Homo sapiens: one gene and its partners. The protein of the gene in region 2 interacts with the protein of the main gene of each other region in a pairwise test. Each region holds a gene or a part of one and is shown on either strand. Other genes may lie near its edges.

Region 1 (5,806 bases), on a different chromosome or scaffold from region 2:
CTGTATCTATAGAGGGAGGATTGCTACCCACTAAGCCTCCTCCTAGAAGCAACTTTAGCTCATCATCAATCCTCAGACTGGCTCAGCAGCTACACTAAGGTGTTAAAGCACAAGGATACTATGGAAAGGCAGATGACTAGAGAGGAAAATCTCCAATTCAGAATTCTATAACTGCTTCACAGTATAATTCTGTAGTGCCTTACTATATAATTGATCATCTAAACTGAGACACACTGGGAAAACTTAAAGAGGGTACTATTAATAATTATGCTGGGACAACAGACATAAACCAGGATGGTTCCAGCCAGACTCTTCAGGAAGGCTGGGACCACATAACCTTTTGTCTGCTTTTGCCCTGATTCTTAAAAGCCATACTCTGTGTCCTTCCTATGTAGCACATGCAAGAGGTCTCCTGGGAACCTCTTTCTCTACCTTTTCCTTGTCTCACCTGACTACCCAGATGTCCCCACAACCCTTGTACCTCCCCTTCTTGCCCAACAATGACAGACCATATTGAAGCCAAATTGGAGAGAGATGTATTTATACCAGTGGGGCTAAGGAGGAAGCAGTCCAGTGGGGGACTTTGAGTGCTGTGCAGTGTTCTCTTAAGAGTCGTAGTACAGTCCTGGGGTCAAGTCTCTTTCCCTAATCTTTGCTGGGGAAGCCTTGAGCCTTGATTTATCCTTCCCTTGGCTTTGGGCTTTGAGGAAGTTGGGGATGGAGGGGATGATGCTTCTTTAGGTTTCTCTATTCCAAGCCCCTCTGAATTTCTAGTTGCAACCTGCCTTCACACAGAGTTGATGGGAAAGATTAGTTGTAGATGTCGGTATGGGATTGAGCCTACAGCAAGAGGAAGAAGGGAACTCCAGTATAGAGTACACAAAGGAAAAGGGCAGGAAAGATACCAAAGGCTTATGAAAACAAAGGAAGGGAAGAAAAGAGAAAAAAGGTGGAAAATCAGGTCCCAGATTGCTTGTTAGGAAGAATGAGGTAATTTTGTGCCTAGGAATGCACAATCCAAAGCTTGATTTTCACCACCTCCATTTGTTCTCTCGAGCATCCTTCCAGATGTTTCTCCCCGTCTAAAGCCAGCACACCAACCCTTCCCGTGAAATGCCCACCTCAGGACTCATCCCCCTCCAGGCCTTCCTGGATGCAGATATACACAAAGATGGAAGCTGGGCGGAGGCTGATGCCATCTTTGGACAGCAGGTGAATGTGGCGGTAACCTGGAAGGGGCAGGAGGACAGCATTAGGAAGGCAGCCAGAGCTGGGGTATTGGCCAGGGGCCAAAGGGGCTGGCTCACCTTGTTGCATGCAGGTCCAAGGCAGGGTGTACTGACCAATAAAGTCATTTCGGGATTTCCAGTCATAATCCATTACCACAAAACGCAGCATGGCAAGTTCAGGCACCAGCACCCGGAAACATAGTGTCTGCCCCCAGTATGGATTAAAACCTGAGTTGGTGGACAGAAAGAAATAAGAAGACATTATGACAGTTTTCTTGACTGGGTTGCTTTTCTTGTGTTCTCATTTAATCTAGATGGCAATCAGCATTTTACAGGTAAGGAAAAAGGCTCAGAGTAAGCAAGTAATTTGCCCAGGTCACTGGAGCTTTTAAGTGAAGAGCCAGGATTCTTTGTACTGTTCCACACTGCCTCCCATGTGGGGACATGCAATAACAGATGCTATACTTAATGGAAGACAGACTAGAAGGAAAACTAATCATGCTCCTACCCCCACCTCCCCAGCACTGCCAGTTTCTCACCATTGTTCTCCACATAGTTGGTCTCCTGCCGTGCTGTGTCTAGACGAACGCCAAAGATCTGCACTTTCACCAGTGGATCCACAATGGACCCCTCTTTGGTCTTGTCCACTTTGGGGAGTTGCTGACCGCTGATCACCTGTAGTCAGGGCTCTGGAATCTCACAAGTTCCTGCTCAGCCCAGCCCCACCCGACCCTACTCCCAACCCCAGGGGAGAAGAAGCTTTTTGGTTTGTAAAACATCCTCCATGGGTAATATATTTTCTTCTAGTATTCTATCTGCAATTTAAAATGCACCCAAAGGCCGGGCACGGTGGCTCACACCTGTAATCCCAACACTTCAGGAGGCCGAGGTGGGCAGATCACTTGAAACCAGGAGACCAGCCTGGCCAACATGGTGAAACCCTATCTCTACTAAAAATACAAAAATTAGCCAGGCATGGTGGCGGGCGCCTGTAGTCCCAGCTACTCGGAAGGCTCAGATGGGAGAATCACTTGAACCCAGGAGGCGGAGGTTGCAGTGAGCCAAGATCATGCCACTGCACTCCAGCCTGCAGCAGAGCAAGACTCTGTCTCAGAATAAACAAATAAATTAAATGGATCCAGGTAGAAATTCAACAGTTTGAAAGTAGGCATGCTAATGACAGCAGCCACTTTTTTTTTTTCAAAGAGACACGATCATACTCTTGACCAAGCTGGAATGCAGTGGGGCAGTCATAGCTCACTGCAACCTCCATCTCCTGGGCTAAAGTGACCCTCCAGCCTTAGCCTCCTGAGTAGCCAGGACTATCTATAGTCATGTGCCACCATGCCAGGCTAATTTTTAAATTTTTTGTAGAGACGGGAGTCTCTACAAAATTTTTAAATTTTTTGTTGAGACCAGTTTCAGACTGGTCTCAAACTCCTGGGCTCAAGCAGTCCTCCTGCCTTGGCCTCCAAAGCGCTGGGATTACAGGTGTAAGCTATCGCTCCCAGCCAGCCTCTTTTATAGCACTTCCTGTGTGCCAGGAATTGTAAGAACTTTATATTAACTGTTATACTCCTTATAACCCTGTGAGGCAGGTGGTAGTGTTACCCCTATTTTGCAGGTGAGCAGACTGAGGTATGGAGAGGTTAAGGAACTTGCCCAACATTACCCAATTAGGAAGTTGTGGTTTGAAGCTAGGCAGCTGGCTCCAAAAGCTAAAACTAGACACTGTTAATAGGCTATCCGGCCTCTACATTCCGGTCAGGCCTAGCCACCTCTTCCCTCACTTCTATCCCAGTTATCTCAGTTTCTTCCCAACAGTTTATTTCCACTGTACCTGGATTAAGAGAGTCTGGGCTTTGAAAGGGCTGATGGGCTTCTCAGGGTGGAAAGAACTCTGGATATCACGCAGGAAGTCTGGCTTCAGCACATAGCCACAGCCGCCATTCTGGCGGAAATGCCCATCACAGATGTCCATTTCAAGCCCTGCAGTCTGCATATTCATGGCCACTGAGGGCCCCAGGAGAAAAGAAGAGCAAGATTCACCATGGAGGCCTTCCAGCCCCTCTTTCAGGGAGTTAAGAAGATAGGTACTGGGTGCACGGTACCTGCTGGTAATATCCACTGATAGCATTTCTCAGCCTAGCAATTTTCTTGAGCATTCCCCAACCCTACCATCACTAGAGAACTTATTTCCCACCTGCTGCTCCTCCACTCCCTCTTCCCAGTCCCTGCTGCCTCCTCACCCATCTGGCAGCCTGCATTCCAGAGTTCCTGGGGGTTGTAGTTGGAAGAGTCTGTCCTCAGGCCGCTGGGATACACACGGCTTAACTGCCAAGTATTGTGCTGCACAAACTCATTGCCTGTAAAAGGGTATAGAGAGGGAGATGGAAGTGGGGTGGAATCTCCCACTTCCCTAGTCCCAAGGACCATGCCTACTCTTCACCCTTCTCTCCAGCATCTGAAGCTGGCTCCAGAAAGTTTCACTGTGCCTCTCTACTCTGTCCATCCAGACCAGCTTTCCTGCCCCTAGACCCTTGAGCCACTATTCATAACTCCTCTGCCCTTGTCTGCTCTAAGGAGTTTCTGAACTCCTTCATCTCTCCTTAGCTACCTTGTCTTTTTTCTTGGGACTTACCTGCCAGTCCATCAGGCCTGAACCTATCCATCCCACTTCCCTCCCCATCCCTCCATTTTGGTCCTGACCAGCCTCCTTGATGAGGCGCTTGGCCTTGGTTTCAGAGAAAGATGATATCTCGTAGAAGTGGTAGTGCTCCTTTGAATGTGTGAAGCTGCGGAATGAGACAGACTTCAAGTAGATAACCAGGGAAGAGAGGGCTGGACACAAGATGGGCTTGGATTTCTGGAGAAGGTGGAAAAGAAGATGGAATTGAACCCTCAGCAGTCTGAGAGAGAAGAAGATAATGGCCATCCAACCTAAACCTCTGCCCACTGCCTCCCCACTGTATTCTCCCTCCTGCCTCACCTGCCGGGACAAGAGAAGGGACTCAGGCTTGGAAATAGGAGCCTGGGCCACAATCTGACAACAGATAGACGGACAAAACAGCGGGCACGTCACAACCTGGGGGTGGGAATGGGAATAAAGGCGGTCTGCATGTACTGCTGGGATCAGTGTCAACCTCTGGGCTTGTGTTTGCTCTATGTTATATCCTGGGTGACAGGTTTTAAATTTATTATTATATTTAAACAGAGAGGCATTATCCTCCCTCCCTCTCATTTAAAACAAAGGAACAATAACCTTTGGTCAAAATGTACATGAATCCAGACAGATATGTCAAGGTATGCAAATGGTCATGTAAGTCACACCTGGAAGGATGTGAGAGTCCCAGAGTAATATCTTTGGATTTGTCTCCTGAATTCCCATTTCCATCCCTGGACATGGCAGCAGGTTAGACACCACAGCCCCAGAAAGCACAGGATAAGCTAGGAGTCAGTCAGCTGAGTGAGCCACGCAAGTACACAAGAGAAAGGCAGACTTCAAACCAGGATCTTGGAGGCCCCACCAATGGCATCCCTTCTCCCTCTGCCTCCCTTCCCCATAGGGAGATGGACCACTCTAGCACAGCCTTCTCAGAGCCTTCACGTTCCCCACCTCAAAATGCTCTCCTTCCTGCTCCTCTGGCTACTGCTGGCCCTTCCTAAAACTCATCCTTTCCAAAAAGCTTTCTCTATGCCCACTTTGGTTGAGATCACAACAATCATTCCAGTAACCCCTACTTACCCAATATAATAATGTTACACATACAAACACACACCCGCTCATCACTGGTTTTCAAGCTGGCCTTTAAGAAGACCAAGAAGTACAAAAATGTCTCAGGAGTCACTAGGGCACCCAGGAGAGAGCCAAATGGGTGCTTCAACTAGGATGGTTCTGCGTTTATCTATTTTGCGTAAGATTTCATTTTAAAAAAAAAGATGTGGCCCAAAGAAGTTGGAAAGCCACTGCAACATACCTACATATGGCAGTATATAATATATATTGATGCCATGTATGCGGTCTTAAATCTCCTTCATTGGGAGGAAGGGTCATTGCTCCTTGGCCCTGCATCTTGCACGGCTCTAGTCTTCATGAACAGGCCTTCAGCTTGCATAAGTTGACTAAATACCACAGCAGAAAGACCACTCCTGGCTTACCTTCTTTTTGTCCTTATTCTGAAGGTTCTGCTCCTGGGGCTCAGGCTCAGTCTCAAACTGGGACTCCAGCGCCAATTCTGACTCTTCCAACTCAGGTTCTGCTTCCTCTTCCTCATATTCCAGGTCTTCCTCAAGTGTTAACTTCTTCCCCTTCACCAGGATCTTCCTCCGAAGCTCCTAGGGGACAAAAATGAAGGGGCCTGTCTACCTGTCTGCTCTTGGGTCCTTCTGGGAATCATGCCAGTCTCATTGTTCTCAAAGGCAGAGGAAGTGAGTGAGTGGTCGGAAGTTCCCGAGGGAAGAGATTAGCTGCTTGATACATACAATTGGAATTCCCATATTGTTAAGCAAACTTTTAATATCTCTATCCATATGGAAAATAATATATATGGTCTCCTGCCACACATTTGACACAGTAA
Region 2 (7,541 bases):
TGCTGCTGGTGCTCCTGAGGGGACCCTTAGGGAAGCCCAGGGCCCCTGCGGATGGGAACCTCCCTCCACCAAAGTCTGACCCTGAAGCATGCAGGCCGTTCAGCCGAGGGTGTCCCTGTACTCCTGGGTGGCCAGCTGCTTAGTGTGAATGGTCTCTCTGCATTGCAGGGCCATCGGCCACTCGCCAAAAAGAGAGCTGGTGCATTTGGGTTTTGCTGAGACTCGGAATGCTGGAAGATTCTGCCTGAGCCCAGCAGGCTCTTGGCTTTGCTATCCCTTCCCAATGCCCTTGGCTGTCAGTTCTCTGGAAAGTGGCAGAGAGGAAGGAGCCACAGTGCTGCGTGCCGCCACCAAGGGGAAAGCTCTTCAACCAGGTTCAGAGCCAAGTCGCTGAGAGTTGCTTCTCATCCTTAGCACATTTCCTACCAGGGGCAGGATGAGTTAATTTTCGGGATGGGGATCTAACTGGCTGGCGGTTTAAAGGGCCCTTCTATTTAGCAGCCATGAGGGCTGCTAGAGTTCCTATCTCCCATTGAAGAAGGGGCTTCTTCAAGCAGACAGACCAAACATCATTTCAAAATGAGGACTGCATTTGAAATCTACTGAAGGGGGTGATACCGGGGGCCTGAAGCCTGGGGTTTGAGCTCACTTCTAGGGTGACCAATTCTTCTGTTTGCCTGGGACTGTGGGGTTTCCTACGACAGGATTTTCAGTGCTAAAACTGGAAAAGTCCTGGGCAAATGGAGATGAGCTGCTCACTCTAGTTTGACCCCATTCTTTCTGTGTTCTCACCAACTTTCAGTCTTTCATTTTGCAGATTGAGAGAATCAAGGTACTAATAAAACCTGCTGTCCCCATCTCCCAAACCCGTGGGACTCAAAAGAGCTGACGTCAGTATCCCATGGCACCTTAAGCCTCCCCATCAGGGCACATCCCACTGCTGACACACCTCTGCAGGCCTCTTCTTCCTCTCAGTTTGAGCTTTCTTGGGTGAGACCCCTTTATTCATCTCAGAGCATTCCTGGGCTTGGCTAAGAGCAGAAACTCGGGAAAGCTGTGCTTATAAAGCAAAGCACAAAGCATTCCCACCTGTTGGTTGGTGTCCTTCTTTTCTGTCCTGCCCTGGTTAGCCCCATGGGAAGGTCCTCTACAGGCTCCGACAGACAGGCGTGCCCCTGAGGGCGGCTGTCAGGAGGAAAACAGGGCAGCACGGGCAGGAGGCTTGGTCACTGCTTTGTTCTGAACGAGGCCGGGACAAGGAACCAGACAAAAGGTGGACAGGTATAGTGAGCAACCAGGGAGGGCCTGGTGGGGAGGTGAGGAAGCAGCAGGTCCCCACCCTGGGGAAGAGAAGGGCTTTAGCTGGAATCTTAACAAATAGGCCAATCTCATCCTCCAGCCTCTGGGACTCCAGCACGGACTCCCTTGGCTGCCTGCCTCCCTGACTCTCTCAGAGGCTGCCCATCCCTTGCAGCTCCTTGCGGGGCTGCCTTCCTGGGGGGTCAGCCAGATCTCAGCATGCTGAGTTGTCTGTCCCCTTGGCCTGGACATGGCCCAGCTCCGCAGGGTGATATCTGGTGGGCAGTCTGCCCCAAACCTCAGCCCTCCATCTCCCCCTCACCCCTTGATTCTCCCATCCCAGCCGCAGGCCTGCTTCTCTGCCTCTAGGCTCCTGGACACATAGGGTCTTGGCTTTGGGTGGCCACCCAGGGTCCCAGCTTCAGTCTTAGCTCTCAGAGCCTTAACCTCAGCTGAACTTCCCTGGTAAGCGAGCCCTGTGGCTCTAGGACCACTTGGGGCTGGCCAAAGCATGGTGGGGAGGAGGATGACTCAATGGCAGCCTGATTCAGGAAAGCCCCTCACCAGCCCTCGCCAGTCTGCACCCAGAGGATCCATTTCACGTGTCCTCCAAATCCTGGCTGATCCTGTTTCATTCTCTTGCTGGACACCCTTTCTGGGGCCCAGGAGTGCTGGGACACAGACATGGTCCCCATCACCAGAGAATCCTAGAACTCTCAGTGGAAGAAACCCCAAAGGTAACTGGTCCAGTCTCCTGCATTTGGATGGACTAGACAGAAATTCATGCTCAGAGCACCTAGGCACAGAGAGGGTGAGTAACTTCCCCAGGGTCACACAGTAAAGGAATGATCAGCTGCTCCTGAGCCACCTACCTGAACTCTCCTTTCTCCGCCTGGATGATTTCTTCTCTGTCTCATTGGCAGTGCTCCCAAGCACCCCGTAGTCATCGCCTGGGCCTCCTGTGGTGTCCACCAGGCCCAGGCTGCTGGTCCCCATTTCCTTGGAACCCCCTGCCGGGCCTGAGTTGGGCCTGCGCCGGGCGTCTGAGACAGGGAAGTGCCAGTTGGGGGACTGTGGGAAAGCGGGGTGCTGCTCAGTGAAGATGTGCTCCTCCTGGGGCAGGCTGTGTGGGGTGGCTGCCAGGCAGGAGGCTGAGAAGTCAGGGTACGCTGCCGTCGCTGTCGCCAGGAAGTCTGGTTTCTGGTGGAAGGAGAACGGGGTGGGCGGGTAGTGGGGTAGCCCTGAGGCCCCATTGCCTTCCGAGTGGGGGTTTCGAAGGCAGCCCCAGACAGGGGCTGGGGGCTGGAGGCTCCTCATGCAGCTGCTGGCCGCGGGATCCATCTGCTGTCCGCTGCACGCCTCGGTCCTTTCAAAGATTTGATTCTTTATACTTTTTATGTTCAAATTTTTAAAAATGCAAAAGAAAAAAAACTAAATAGGAGGGAAAAATGTTCAACAGAAAATTTACCCCAGGAACCAAAAAAAAAAAAAAACCCAAAACTAAAGTCTCTCCTTAAAGTACACACACATGTGGCCAGCTACTCCTATGTGTGTGCACACACCTATGTCGGGCTTGCTCCTGCCCCTCCAATGCACCAGCCTACCTACTGGGATCCCCTGTATGTGTATTTGTCGCCAATGACACTAAACATTTTCACTGTCCCAACCCAGACGCACCAGCTGACGAGGAGTTCGTCCTGGAGCCCAGAGCAAATGCCTGCAGAGGGCTGGACCAGGGCTGCTGGGACACACTTTTAAATCCTGCGGTGGGGAGAGAGTGACAAATTTCTGAAGTGAAATGTGAGAGAGGAGAGGGAGGGGTTAACCCACACACACAAGATCCCCTCCAACCAAAACCCTAGCAGGCAACTATTAATCATCAGAAACCTTATATGCACATCTAATGGGATTTGCAGATGGAGACTTTTAAAGAAACATTGTCTGTATTTTTTTTTTAAGGAAAGAGAGCAGCACACACACACATACACACACACCGTCTTTAATGTGCCTCCTGTAACACTATGAAGTTATTTTTATTGCACTGTTAACAAAATTCCCCAAGTCTTGGATTTAGAAAAAGCCTTAAGTCAGATCCAGAATCCATCAAATGCCAAATTCCAGGGAGTGAAGTGAGGAATAAGAGCAAGAGACAAGCTTGGTGATTGCATTTGATTTAAAGGCCCTTCTACTGCTGCCTGCGAAAAAGGAAGGTGGATTAAAAGAAATCTTTTTTGCAAGTCTCAGCGGCCCACTGTGGTCTGCAGTACAAAGAAAGGCACACTCTAGAAAAAAAGAATTTCTCTCTGCCCAGAGTGACATTCTCACTTTCTCAGTAACTTAAAAAAACAATCAGATTCTTCCTTCCGCTCTTTAACCTCCAACATACATGCCAATTAGCCACACTCTTCTCTAGAGAGGTTTCAAGTCATTTTTCTTCACAGCAATGGCAAGGCTCTTAAATAAGGTCCTTGAAGTTTCTTCGGGTCTCCTCCCACCTGCTCCCTGCCCCCTTCACCTCCACCCACCTGCTTCCCTTTCTCATCCCCCAGAGGCGGAGGCTTCCGAGGAATTTGGGGTAGGGAAATAGGAATCAGGGGCTCCTCATTCCCCAAAGGAGCCTCTTTGGCAAGCAGGCACGTGGGTCTCCGGGCTGGTGCACATCACAGGGCAGCCAGCCCAAGTGCCATCTTGATGCCCAGTCTTCCTCATGGCTGCGCCCTGCTGGTCTCTCAGAGGGTTAATGCAATTTCTTGGAGGACGACATTCCTAACACCCAGGGGCCAGAACTCCTTCCCCACTGGTTATTCCCATGGCCCAGAGCAGCAGGATGGGGGCAGAAACAGGCATGGACCTTAACAGCAGCGTCTCTGCTGGCTGCTTCCAAAGACGGCGAGGGTTCCCTGAGGAGGGGCCCCTAGGTCTTAGCTCTGCAGCCTGGAGGTGGGGCCCTGGGGGGTGGGTGCAGGAGATGCTCCTAGGAGGAGCCGAAGGGCACCCAGGGATGTGGAATGAAGCCACGACTGGCCTTTAATCCAGAAACTCCAGTCAGATACACATCCTGGGAGCAGGAGCAGCTGTAAAAGATGGGGAGGGGTGTACATATGAAAAGATGTGCCCTCTTCTGGAACAAGCGGTCAGAGTGTTGTAGACCAGTAGAGTGGATGGGGTCATAGCTGTCAACCAGACTCATCTTTCTGCTTTGCCCAGGGCTTAGCTGTGGCACACACAATTCTCTGAGCCTCACAACTTTCCTAGGATGGGTAAGTAAGAATTATGTCTCCATTTTGCAGATGACAAAACCGAGGCTCAGATGGATGACTGGGCTGCCCAGACTCACACAGCTAAGAAATGGTGGAATCAGCACTTGGCCTCAGGTGTCCTGCTGTTCAGTTTGGAGCAGGCCAGATGCAGAGGAGGAGGCATGGGGTTTGAGGTTAGACGGGTCTGAGTTCAAGCCCCAGGTCTGCCACTTCCTGGCTGTGTGCCCTGGAACAAGTCACCTTATCTCTCTGAACTTCTTTTTTTTTTTTTTCTTTTTGAGATGGAGTCTCGTTCTGTCGCCCAGGCTGGAGTGCAGTGGCATGATCTCAGCTCACTGCAAGCTCCGCCTCCCGGGCTCACGCCATTCTCTTGCCTCAGCCTCCCGAGTAGCTGGGACTACAAGCACCCGCCACCACGCCCGGCTAATTTTTTGTATTTTTTAGTAGAGACGGGGTTTCACCGTGTTAGCCAGGATGGTCTCAATCTCCTGACCTCGTGATCCGCCCGCCTCGGCCTCCCAAAGTGCTGGGATTACAGGCATGAGCCACCATGCCTGGCCATCTCTCTGAACTTCTGTTTCCTCATCTGAGATGACAGTCAGAGTGGGATCTGTGTAAGGCACTTTGCACCTTACACATTTTTACCCCCACGGATTCCCACAAAAGCCTTCTGAGGCAACAGTCATTCTCATCAGCTCCGTTTCTCTCTCTCTCTTTTTTTTTTATCAGCTCCGTTTTTCAGCAGAAGACTCTGATGCACAGATAGACTGTGTAACCTGCACAAGGCCACACAGCAGGGAAGCGGCGGACCCAGGATTCAAATTGAGGCAGCCCAGCCCACAGACATTTGCAAATCTTCAATGAAATCCTTTATGTAGGCCAGGCACGGTGGCTCAGACCTATAATCCCAGCACTTTGGAAGGCTGAGGCAGGCAGATCATTTGAGGCCAGGAGTTCAAGACCAGCCCGGCCAACATGGTAAAACCCCGTCTCTAATAGAAATACAAAAATTAGGCCGGGCGCGGTGGCTCACGCCTGTAATCCCACCACTTTGGGAGGCCGAGGCGGGTGGATCATGCGGTCAGGAGATCGAGACCATCCTGGCTAACACAGTGAAACCCCGTCTCTACTAGAAATACAAAAAAAAAAAAAAAAAGGCGGGCGTGGTGGCGGGCGCCTGTAGTCCCAGCTACTTGGGAGGCTGAAGCAGGAGAATGGTGTGAACCCGGGAAGCAGAGCTTGCAGTGCACCGAGATCACGTCACTGCACTCCAGCCTGGGTGACAGAGCGAGACTCCATCTCAAAAAAAAAAAAAAAAAGAAATACAAAAATTAGCTGGGTGTGGTGGCACATGCCTGTAATCCCAGCTACTCGGGAGGCTGAGGGCAGGAGAATCGCTTGAGCCTGGGAAGCAGAGAGGTTGCGGTAAGCCAAGATTGTACAACTGCACTCCGGCCTGGGCGACAGAGTGAGACACTGTCTCAAAAAAAAAAAAAAAGAAAAAGAAAAAGAAATAAAGAAAGAAATCCTTTATGCAAAAGGCAGAGTAAGTAATGGACAAATGTGGCTCCCTTCCTAGCACATCTATTTCTGGTTAACCTCGATGATCCCAAAGGGTGAACCTGGGAATGGGGAGTTCTGAGGAAATTCTACAGAAACAGCCTTGTGAGGTCCTTTGTGGGGGGCACGCTGTGCTGTGGGGGTTCTGGAAGGAATCCGTGGGAGGCTGGGAGGAAGATCTGGCTTGTCAGCTTCCCTAGGAAAACCTTCCCCTGGGCTGGCCGCAGGCTGTAACCGGATTCCTGCTCCACCTCTGCATCTGGCCCAGGGACCTCATGGCAGGGAGGCCCAGCGCCTGGCCCTTTGCCCCTGGACGGGGTGGGCCCTGGGTCATGGTGGGGTGGGTGGGGAGGTCAGGAGGGCCATGGGGAGGGGGCGCGGTGGGGTGCTTTGCCCTGAGAACACAGGCCTCTGGCACCCCGGAGCCCCCGGCAGCTGCTGGCGTCTGTCAGCCACCTTGCGGGGCGCGGCCGGGGGCTGCTGGCCCCTACATCTTCCTGACAGGCCCCTCTTCTGAGGCCAGGAAAAAACAACAACAGTTCCTCCCCTCACGGCAACCCATTTGTTAGATGAAGGCCGGGCACCAGCACCTTTAACCTCCTCAAAGTCAGCGTTTCCCTGTCAAGGCCCCACAGGGCCAGAGACAGAGATGGATGGAAGGAGCTGTGTGTCGAAAAAGCCCTGTGGCCTCATGAGGAGAGCTCTGTTTTCAGGAAGGGAGGGGACCCCGGTTTCTGATTGTTGGGGAGAATAAGGGGAGGAAGAGGAAAAGTGTGAGTCACGAGGAGGTCCCCCAGGGGCGTGGGGGGGCCCAGGAGGGCTTTCAGCCTGGCCACACCTGAGCCATCACGTGGAACTTGCGGAATGTCTCCCATTGTGCGTGGCAGGCAGGCGTGTACTTGGCAGGACAGGGCTGCTTCTGTTTGTGGCCACCCCACCCCCTTGTGCTTGGAGAGGCAGGGTGTCAGGGCAAGGCCCTGGACCTGGAGGCAGAAGACACGGGTTCAAGGTGTGACCTTGCCTGTTACCGGCTGTGTGGTCTCAGGCAAATCACACCCTTCTCTGAGCTTCATTTTTCTCACTGGCAAAATGGAGTTGACAGTTCCGGCCTCACCTGGCGGTTAGGAGGATAAATGAACTGCATCTGAGAACAGAGCTGGCTGACTATAAAGGGTGATGCATGTGAGGAATAGCTTGTCCTTAACTATGCTGAACCACTGGGCAGGACACAGCACAATGTAGGTGAAGACGGCTCATCCCAGCCCCCAGATACCTTCTATGGCAACATAACACAAGGGTCCAAATCATGGCCTTGGGAATTGGGGGCCTGTGGGTTCAAACCTCAGCTCTGTTTTTTTGTTTTTTGTTTTGAGACGGAGTCTTGCTCTGTTGCCCAGGCTGGAGTGCAGTGGTGGGATCTCG
Region 3 (7,865 bases), on a different chromosome or scaffold from region 2:
AGCCACCTCGCCTGGCCAAAATTAATTTTTCTATGTCAGGCTGGGTGTAAATTTTCTATGCCAGGCTGACTCACACCTGGCCTGGTGTGCAATCCAAACACTTTGGGAGGCTGAGGCAAGAGGATCACTTGAGCCCAAAAGTTTGAGAACAGCTTGAGCAACATATTGAGACCTCATCTCTACAAAAAATACAAAAAATGCAGATCACGAGGTCAGGAGATCGAGACCATCCTGGCTAACACGGTGAAACCCCATCTCTGCTAAAAATATAAAAAATTAGCCGGGTGTGGTGGTGGGCGCCTGTAGTCCTAGCTACTCGGGAGGCTGAGGCAGGAGAATGGTGGGAACCTGGGAGGCGGAGCTTGCAGTGAGCAGAGATTGCGCCACTGCACTCCAGCCTGGGCGACAGAGCGAGACTCTGTCTCAAGAAATAAATAAATAAATAAATAAATAAATTAATTAATTAATTAATTAAAATATAAAAGTAAATAAAAAACTGAAAATAGTAACTGCTGGAGAAGATGTGAAATAACTAGAACCTACAAACACTGATGGTGAGAAAGCAAACTAGTGCAGCCTCTTTAGGAAGAAGTTTGGCAAGTTTCTTATATACTGAATATGAGCCATTAATCCTACCCCTCGATATTTACCCAAGTGGAATAAAAAAAAAATACAAAAAATTAGCGAGTGCGGTGGCACCTGCCTGTGGTCCCAGCTACTTAGGAGGGTGAGGTGGGAGGATCAGTTGAGCTCAGAAGGTAGAGACGAGTCTGAACGACATGGTGAGATCCCATCTCTACAAAAATTTAAAAAATTAGCCAGGTGTGGTGGTGTGCACATTTCATGTAAATAGAATCACACTATATGGGACTGTTCATCTCTAGCTTCTTTCACTCAACATAATGTTTTTGTTTTCTTCTTTTCTCTTTTTTGCAAAAGTTACCTTGATCAGCATAATGTTTTTATTTGGGTTGTCTTTCTAGTTTTGAGATGTAAGAGTTCTTAGTTTTTATCGTGGGTTTTGTTTTTTGGTTTTTTTCGAGATAGAGTCTCGCTCTTGTTGCCCAGGCTGGAGTGCAGTGGCACGATCTCAGCTCACTGCAACCTCCCCCTCCCAGGTTCAAGCGATTTTCCTGTCTCAGCCTCCCGAGTAGCTGGGATTACAGGCGCCCACCACCACACCTGGCTAATTTTTTGTATTTTTAGTAGAGACAGGGTTTCACTATGTTGGCCAGGCTGGTCTCTAACTCCTGACCTCAGGTGATCCACCCACCTCATTCTCCCAAAGTGCTGGGATTACAGGCGTGCGCCCGGCCCTGAGAGTTCTTTATATATTCTGAATAGTAGTTCCTTATGAGATATATGATTCACAAATACAGTTAGCCCTTCATATCCAGTTTCCTTATCCATGGATTCAATAAACCACGGAGTGAAAATACCTGGAACCAATAAAATAAAAATAATACAACAATAAAAAGAATACAAATAAAAATGTGTAACAATTATTTATGTAGCATTTATATTTCATTAGATATTATACATAATTTAGAGATAATTTAAAGTCTATGGAGGGCCGGGCATGGTGGCCCATGTAATCCCAGCATTTTGAGAGGCCAAGGTGGGCCGGATCACTTGAGGTCAGGAGTTTGTGACCAGCCTGGCCAACATGGCAAAACCCCGTCTCTACTAAAAATATAAAAATTAGCTGGACACAGTGGTGTGCACCTGTAATCCCAGCTACTAGGGAGGCTGAGGCAGGAGAATTGCTTGAACCTAGGAGGCAGAGGTTGCAGTGGGCTGAGATTACGCCACTGCACTCCAGCCTGGGTGACAGAGCCAGACTCCAACTCGAAAAAGTAAAATAAAAATAAATAAATAAATAAATAAAGTGTATGGAAGATGTGCACAGGCTATATGCAAATATTATGCCATTTTATATAAATGACTTGAGCACTGAGCATTTGTCCCATTCTGTGGGCATGACAGGTTTTTGTGTGAACCTAGTTTAAATTTTTTTTTTACACTATACTTTATTTTTTTAGAGCAGTCTTAGTTTCACAGCAAAATTGATCAGAAGGTACAGAGATTTCCCGTACACCTGCTGCTTTCATACTTGTATAGCTTCCCCTACAATCAACATCCTCCACATGCAAGTGCATGACAGTAGCTAGTCTGTTACAATTGATGAACTGACACTGATACATCATTATCACCCACAGTGGTTAGTGGATAGTTTACATTAGGGGTCACTCTCAGTTGAACATAGGTTTTTATTTCCCTTGGGTAAACACCCAGGAGTCTTTTTTTTTTTTTTTTTTTGAGACAGGATCTCACTCTGTCTCCCAGGCTGGAGTGCAGTACAGTGGAGTGATCATAGCTCACTTCATCCTCGACCTCCCTACCTCAAGCAAACCTCCCAAGTAGCTGGATACCACCAAACCTGGCTAATTTTTGTATTTTTGTAGAGATGGGGCTTCACCATGTTGCCTAGGCTGGTCTCCAACTCCTGGGCTAAAGTGGTCCTCTTGCCTTGGCCTCCCAAAGTGCTGGGATTACAGGCATGAGCCACCATACCAGGCCCTGAATCTTGTGGTAAGGTTAAGTTTAATTCTATTTAAAAAAAACCCAGCCAACCTATTTTCCAGAGTGTCTATACCATTTTGCATCAACACCAGCAATGTATGAGCATTCCAGTTGCTCCATACCCTCACCAACACTTGATATTGTTTATTTTTTGAAAGTTATTCTTGGATGGCTGGGCATGGTGGTTCATGCCTGTAATCCCAGCACTTTGGGAGGCTAAGGTGGGTAGATCACTTGAGGCCAGGTGTTCAAGACCAGCCTGGGCAACATAGACAGACCCTGTCTCCACAAAAAATACAAAAAAAAAAAAATTAGCCGGATGTGGCAGCATGTGCCTCTAGTGCCAGCTACCTGGGAGGCTGAGGAAGGAGGGTCGCTGCAGTGAGCCATGATTGTATCACTGCTCTCCAGCCTGGGTGACAGAGTGAGACCCTGTCTCAAAAAAAAAAAAAAGTCATCCTTGAGGCATCTTTCAAGCCTGATCAGGGTCACATTTTACAAGATGACTGCACAGATTTGGCAGAGGATGCTTGATGAGGCCGAGGCAGGAAAGCCTGCTGGGAAACATTGCAATAGTCCAGGCCAGGTAGAGAAAACACAGGTGAGACCCAAAGTGAGAAGGGCATGGAGGGCCAGGCTAAGAAATTTAGACTCTCAGATTCTCCACCCAAGAGGATTCTGGGCCTTAATAAAGTTGGTAGCTGCTACATTAGATCTGCCCTTTGGGCCGGGCGAGGTGGCTCACACATGTAATTCCAGCACTTTGGGAGGCCGAGGCGGGTGGATCACCTGAGGTCAGGAGTTCGAGACCAGCCTGGCCAACATAGTGAAACTCTGTCTCTACTAAAAATACAAAACTTAGCCAGGCGTGGTGGTGGGCGCCTGTAATAATCCCAGCTACTCGGGAGGCTGAGGCAGGAGAATGGCCTGAACTCGGGAGGTGGAGCTTGCAGTGAGCCGAGATCACGCCACTGCACCCTAGACTGGGTGACAGAGCGAGACTCCGTCTCAAAAAAAAAAAATACAAAAAAAATTAGCTTGGCATGGTGGACACCTGTGGTCCCAGCTACCTGGGATGCTGAGGCAGGAGAATCACTTGAACCTGGGAGGCAGAGATTGCAGTGAACCGAGATCACACCACTGCACTCCAGCCTGGGCAACAGAGTGAGACTGTCTCAAAAAAATAAAATGTAATAAAATAATAATGTCAATGCACACCCCAGAACTTCATCTAGCTTGTTCACCATTATGTTCCCAATGCAGTGATGCAATCATGGCTCACTGCAGCCTCAAACTCCTGGGCTCAAGCAATCCTCCCACCTCAGCCTCCTGAGTAGCTGGGACCACAGGCATGCACCACCACATCCAGCTAATTTTTGTATTTTTAGTAGAGATAGGGCCTTGCCATGCTGCCCAAGCTGATCTTGAACTCCTGGCCTCAAGTGAATCTCATGCTTTGTCCTCCTAAAGTGCTGGGATTACAGGTATGAGCCACCTCGCCCAGCCAAAACCTTTTTTTTTTTTTTGGAGATGGAGTCTTACTCTGTCACCCAGTCTGGAGTGCAATGGCGGGATCTCGGCTCACTGCAACCTCCACCTCCTGGGTTCAAGCAATTCTCCTGCCTCAGTCTCTGGAGTAGCTGGGATTACAGGCATGTGTCACAATGCCAAGCTAATTTTTGTATTTTTAGTAGAGATGGGGTTTTGCCGTGTTGGCCAGGCTGGTCTTGAACTCCTGACCTCAGGTGATCCGCCTGCCTGGCCCTCCCAAAGTGCTGGGATTACAGGTGTGAGCCACCTTGCCCAGTCAAAACCTTTTTTTTTTTTTTTTAAATCTCAGATCCTGAGAATGACCCTATGAGGTAGGTATAATGTAATTTTCATCTCATGAATGAGGTTCAGAGAAGTCAGGTGACTTGCCCAGGGCCACACAGCTAGTGGGCAGAGAGCTGGGATTTGAGCTGCAGTGTGCCCATAGCCCTTCTGTATACCCTGCCTGTCTCTTGAGTGTGCCCCATAACCCCAGCCTCACCTTGTGGTGGCAGATGTGGCCTCCCCACTGAGGTCTTCTCTGTGACATCCCACAGCCCTTATCCTTACCCATGGACACATTCAGGCTGTTGTCCAGAGAGCCTGGCTGTAATTTGAGTCTCATCAAGCAGGGGGTGATGGCGTAGGTGGGTGGGTGACAGCCAGGGCAGGGAGATTTGCCCAGACACTGGTACACAACAGCCTGGCAACCCGTGTGGCCCCGAGGAAGCTGGGAGCCTTTGGGGTGCATCCCCAAGTCTGGGCTGTGGTTCACACCATGGGCAACAAGCAGACAGTCTTCACACACGAGCAGCTGGAAGCGTATCAGGTAGAGGGGGGCAGGATGGGTCCTCAGTGGGTTTGACAACTTTGGTTCCGTGGTCTGGGAAATGGGAACAGAATGCCTTCATCTGGGTGTACCGTCCGCCTGGGTTCCTGGTTCTGCTCTGTGTGTGGCAGCATCAGGCCATCTGTGTGAGTGTGGGGTGGAGGGAGGAGGCCGTGGGAGGAGGCCCCAGAGGCAGGGTTCGGGTTAAGACAACACCTCTCTCCACAGGACTGCACATTTTTCACAAGGAAGGAGATCATGAGGTCAGTCCAGGGAGGAAGGGAGAGAAGATCTGGAAAAACAACTTTCTATTCATTGCTGGAGGATATTTGCAATTTGGTGTGTGTGTGTGTGTGTGTGTGTGTGTGTGTGTGTGTGTGTGTAAGTAGTCTTTCTTTCTTTCTTTCTCTTTTCTCTCTCTCTCTCCCTCCCTCCCTCCCTTCCTTCCTTCCTTCCTTCTTTTCTTTTTTTTTGAGACAGGGTCTGTCTCTATTGCCTGGGCTGGAGTGCAGTGGTGCAATCATGGCTCATTGCAGGCTCGATCTCCCAAGGTCAGGTGATCCTCCCACCTCAGCCTCTCGAGTAGCTAGGACCACTGGTGCGAGCCACCACATGTACCTCATTTTTGTATTTTTTTATAGAGATGGGGCTCTCACTATGTTGCCCAGGCTGGTCTTAAACCCTTGGGCTCAAGCGATCCCCCTGCCTCAGCCTCCCAAAGTGCTGGGATTACAGGTGTGAGCCACCATGCCCAACTGGTATTTCCAATTTGTTGGGACTCAAATGGGGAAGGGGGGCAGGTGTGGTCAGTGGACAGAGGCAGAGATGGAGAAGCTGACAAGTCACATCTTGTCATACTGTCCCAGTCTCTAGGCTGATGAGCTTGGGCTTTCTCCCAAGGGTGGCAGGGAGCTATGGAGCATGCATGAGCAGGGGAGAGACCATCAGCACGTTAGAAAGATTCTCCTGAGGCTGGGCGCGGTGGCTCATGCCTGTAATCCCAGCACTTTGGGAGGACAAGGTGGGTGGATCACCTGAGGTCAGGAGTTTAAGATCAGCCTGGCCAACATGGTGAAACCCCATCTCTGCTAATAATACAAAAATCAGCTGGGCGAGGTGGTGGGTGCCTGTAATCCCAGCTACTCAAGAGGCTGAGGCAGGAGAATTGCTTGAACCTGGGAGGTGGAGGTTGCAGTGAGCCGAGATCACGCCACTGTGCTCCAGCCTGGGTGACAGAGCTAGACTCTGCCTCAGAAAAACAAAATGAAAGATAAAGATTCTCCTGAGACTGGGACTTGAGGCTGGGAGCCCAGGTGCAAAGTCCAGAGCCCAGTCTGGGTTGTGGGCTTGGCATTAAGATGAGGGTGTGAGGAGGTGGCCCAAGGCTGCTGCAGGTCCCTGGCGTGACCCAGCACGATGGGCACAGATGAGTATCCCACATCATCACTCGGCCTGTGGGGCCATTGCCCAGGGGCCCCGACCCATGAACTTGGAGCTATGAAACCCAAGCTGGCCAGGGTTCAGCTGCAGTGTGATCGGGGCCAAGGCCCCAGTTGTGTAGTAACAGGACATCCATTATTGATGGCCACACCTTTTACTAGTGAGCCCCATTGTTTGGGTGAGGACAGCTTGCAGGGTCACCTCGGCCATCACGATCAAATTACTGATGGGGAAACTGAGGCTCAGACAGGGCGGGGCTGATCCCAGGCTGAAGGGTAAATGCACAGAGCCCCAAGGCCCCAAGGACAGACATTTTGTCTGTCCCAAGCTTCTTGCTTATCAGATAGAATAACCAAGGCACAGAGAGGGAGAGGAGAGGAACATGCTCAGAGCCACACAGAAACCTAAACCCAGGGTATTCCCTGATGGGACCCCGACAGGGAACTGAGTGGTCAGGATGAAAGTTCTAGGTCTCCCCACCCCACCTTCATTGAGTTCCTAGTCATCATATGACCTAGGGACTCATGTCTCTCTCAGAGACAGTCCCTAGCAGCTTGGGGACCTCAGACCCACCAAGGATGGTCTCTGCAAGGCTGCTGCTCAGCATGCCCTAATGAAGGTATGGTGTCACAGGTGAGGGCTTCTGAGTGGAGAACTGGCCTTATAATCTGGATAGTGTGTGTGGTATTCAGTTATTTGCAAAATATCTTTTGTCTGCCCTTTAGAAAAAATGTGACTATTAGCTGTTTGTCTCTGCTCTGCCCCATTGAGGAATCCCTCCTTTTTTTTCTTTCTTTCTTCTTTTCTTTCTTTCTTTTTTATTTTTTATTTATTTATTTTTTTTATTGAGACCGAGTCTCATTCTGTTGCCCAGGCTGGAGTGCACTGGCTTGATCTCGGTTCACTGCATGCTGCGCCTCCCGGGTTCACACCATTGTCCTGCCTCAGCCTCCGGAGTAGCTGGGACTACAGGCGCCCACCACCACGCCTGGCTAAATTTTTATATTTTTAGTGGAGACGGGGTTTCACCATGTTAGCCAGGATGGTCTTGATCTCCTGTCCTCGTGATCCACCTGCCTCGGCCTCTCAAAGTGCTGGAATTACAGGCGTGAGCCACCGCGCCCGGCCTCTTTCTTTCTTTTTTCTTTTCTTTTTTTTTTTTGAGACAGAGTCTCGTTCTTGTTGCCCAGGCTGGAGTGCAGTGACACGATCTCAGCTCACTGCAACCTCCAGCTCCCAGGTTCAAGTGATTCTCCTGCCTCGGCCTCCCGAGTAGTTGGGATTACAGGTGCCCGTCACCACGCCCAGCTAATTTTTTGTATTTTCAGTAGAGATGGGGTTTCACCATGTTGGCCAGGCTAGTCTCGAACTCCTGACCTCTGGTGATCCACCCGCCTCGGCCTCCCAAAGTACTGGGATTACAGGCATGAGCCGCTGCATCCGGCCTCTTCCTCCCATTATAAGGAGAGGAAGGGAAGGTATG

Evidence for each region. Proteins that work in one complex are often made in the same cells at the same time.
Region 1: the proteins of MEOX1 (region 2) and PLCD4 interact in binary tests that used the Homo sapiens proteins (3 or more experiments, as listed by UniProt).
Region 3: the proteins of MEOX1 (region 2) and CIB3 interact in binary tests that used the Homo sapiens proteins (3 or more experiments, as listed by UniProt).

What each region holds. Positions count from the first base shown.
Region 1 is NC_000002.12:218,631,894-218,637,699, reverse strand, and holds the end of PLCD4 (1-phosphatidylinositol 4,5-bisphosphate phosphodiesterase delta-4), read right to left. Parts: intron 5,565-5,806; coding exon 5,388-5,564; intron 4,372-5,387; exon of another isoform or gene 4,315-4,371; coding exon of another isoform or gene 4,096-4,314; coding exon 3,939-4,095; exon of another isoform or gene 3,596-3,938; coding exon 3,479-3,595; exon of another isoform or gene 3,243-3,478; coding exon 3,070-3,242; exon of another isoform or gene 1,905-3,069; coding exon 1,769-1,904; exon of another isoform or gene 1,458-1,768; coding exon 1,308-1,457; coding exon of another isoform or gene 1,230-1,307; coding exon 1,123-1,229; 3' UTR 525-1,122; downstream 1-524. UniProt on the Homo sapiens protein: Hydrolyzes the phosphatidylinositol 4,5-bisphosphate (PIP2) to generate 2 second messenger molecules diacylglycerol (DAG) and inositol 1,4,5-trisphosphate (IP3).
Region 2 is NC_000017.11:43,658,895-43,666,435, forward strand, and holds the start of MEOX1 (homeobox protein MOX-1), read right to left. Parts: upstream 3,029-7,541; 5' UTR 2,641-3,028; coding exon 2,172-2,640; intron 1-2,171. UniProt on the Homo sapiens protein: Mesodermal transcription factor that plays a key role in somitogenesis and is specifically required for sclerotome development. Required for maintenance of the sclerotome polarity and formation of the cranio-cervical joints.
Region 3 is NC_000019.10:16,170,502-16,178,366, reverse strand, and holds the start of CIB3 (calcium and integrin-binding family member 3), read left to right. Parts: upstream 1-4,841; 5' UTR 4,842-4,891; coding exon 4,892-4,942; intron 4,943-5,170; coding exon 5,171-5,205; intron 5,206-7,865. UniProt on the Homo sapiens protein: Acts a an auxiliary subunit of the sensory mechanoelectrical transduction (MET) channel in hair cells. Plays a role in regulating hair cell MET channel localization and function.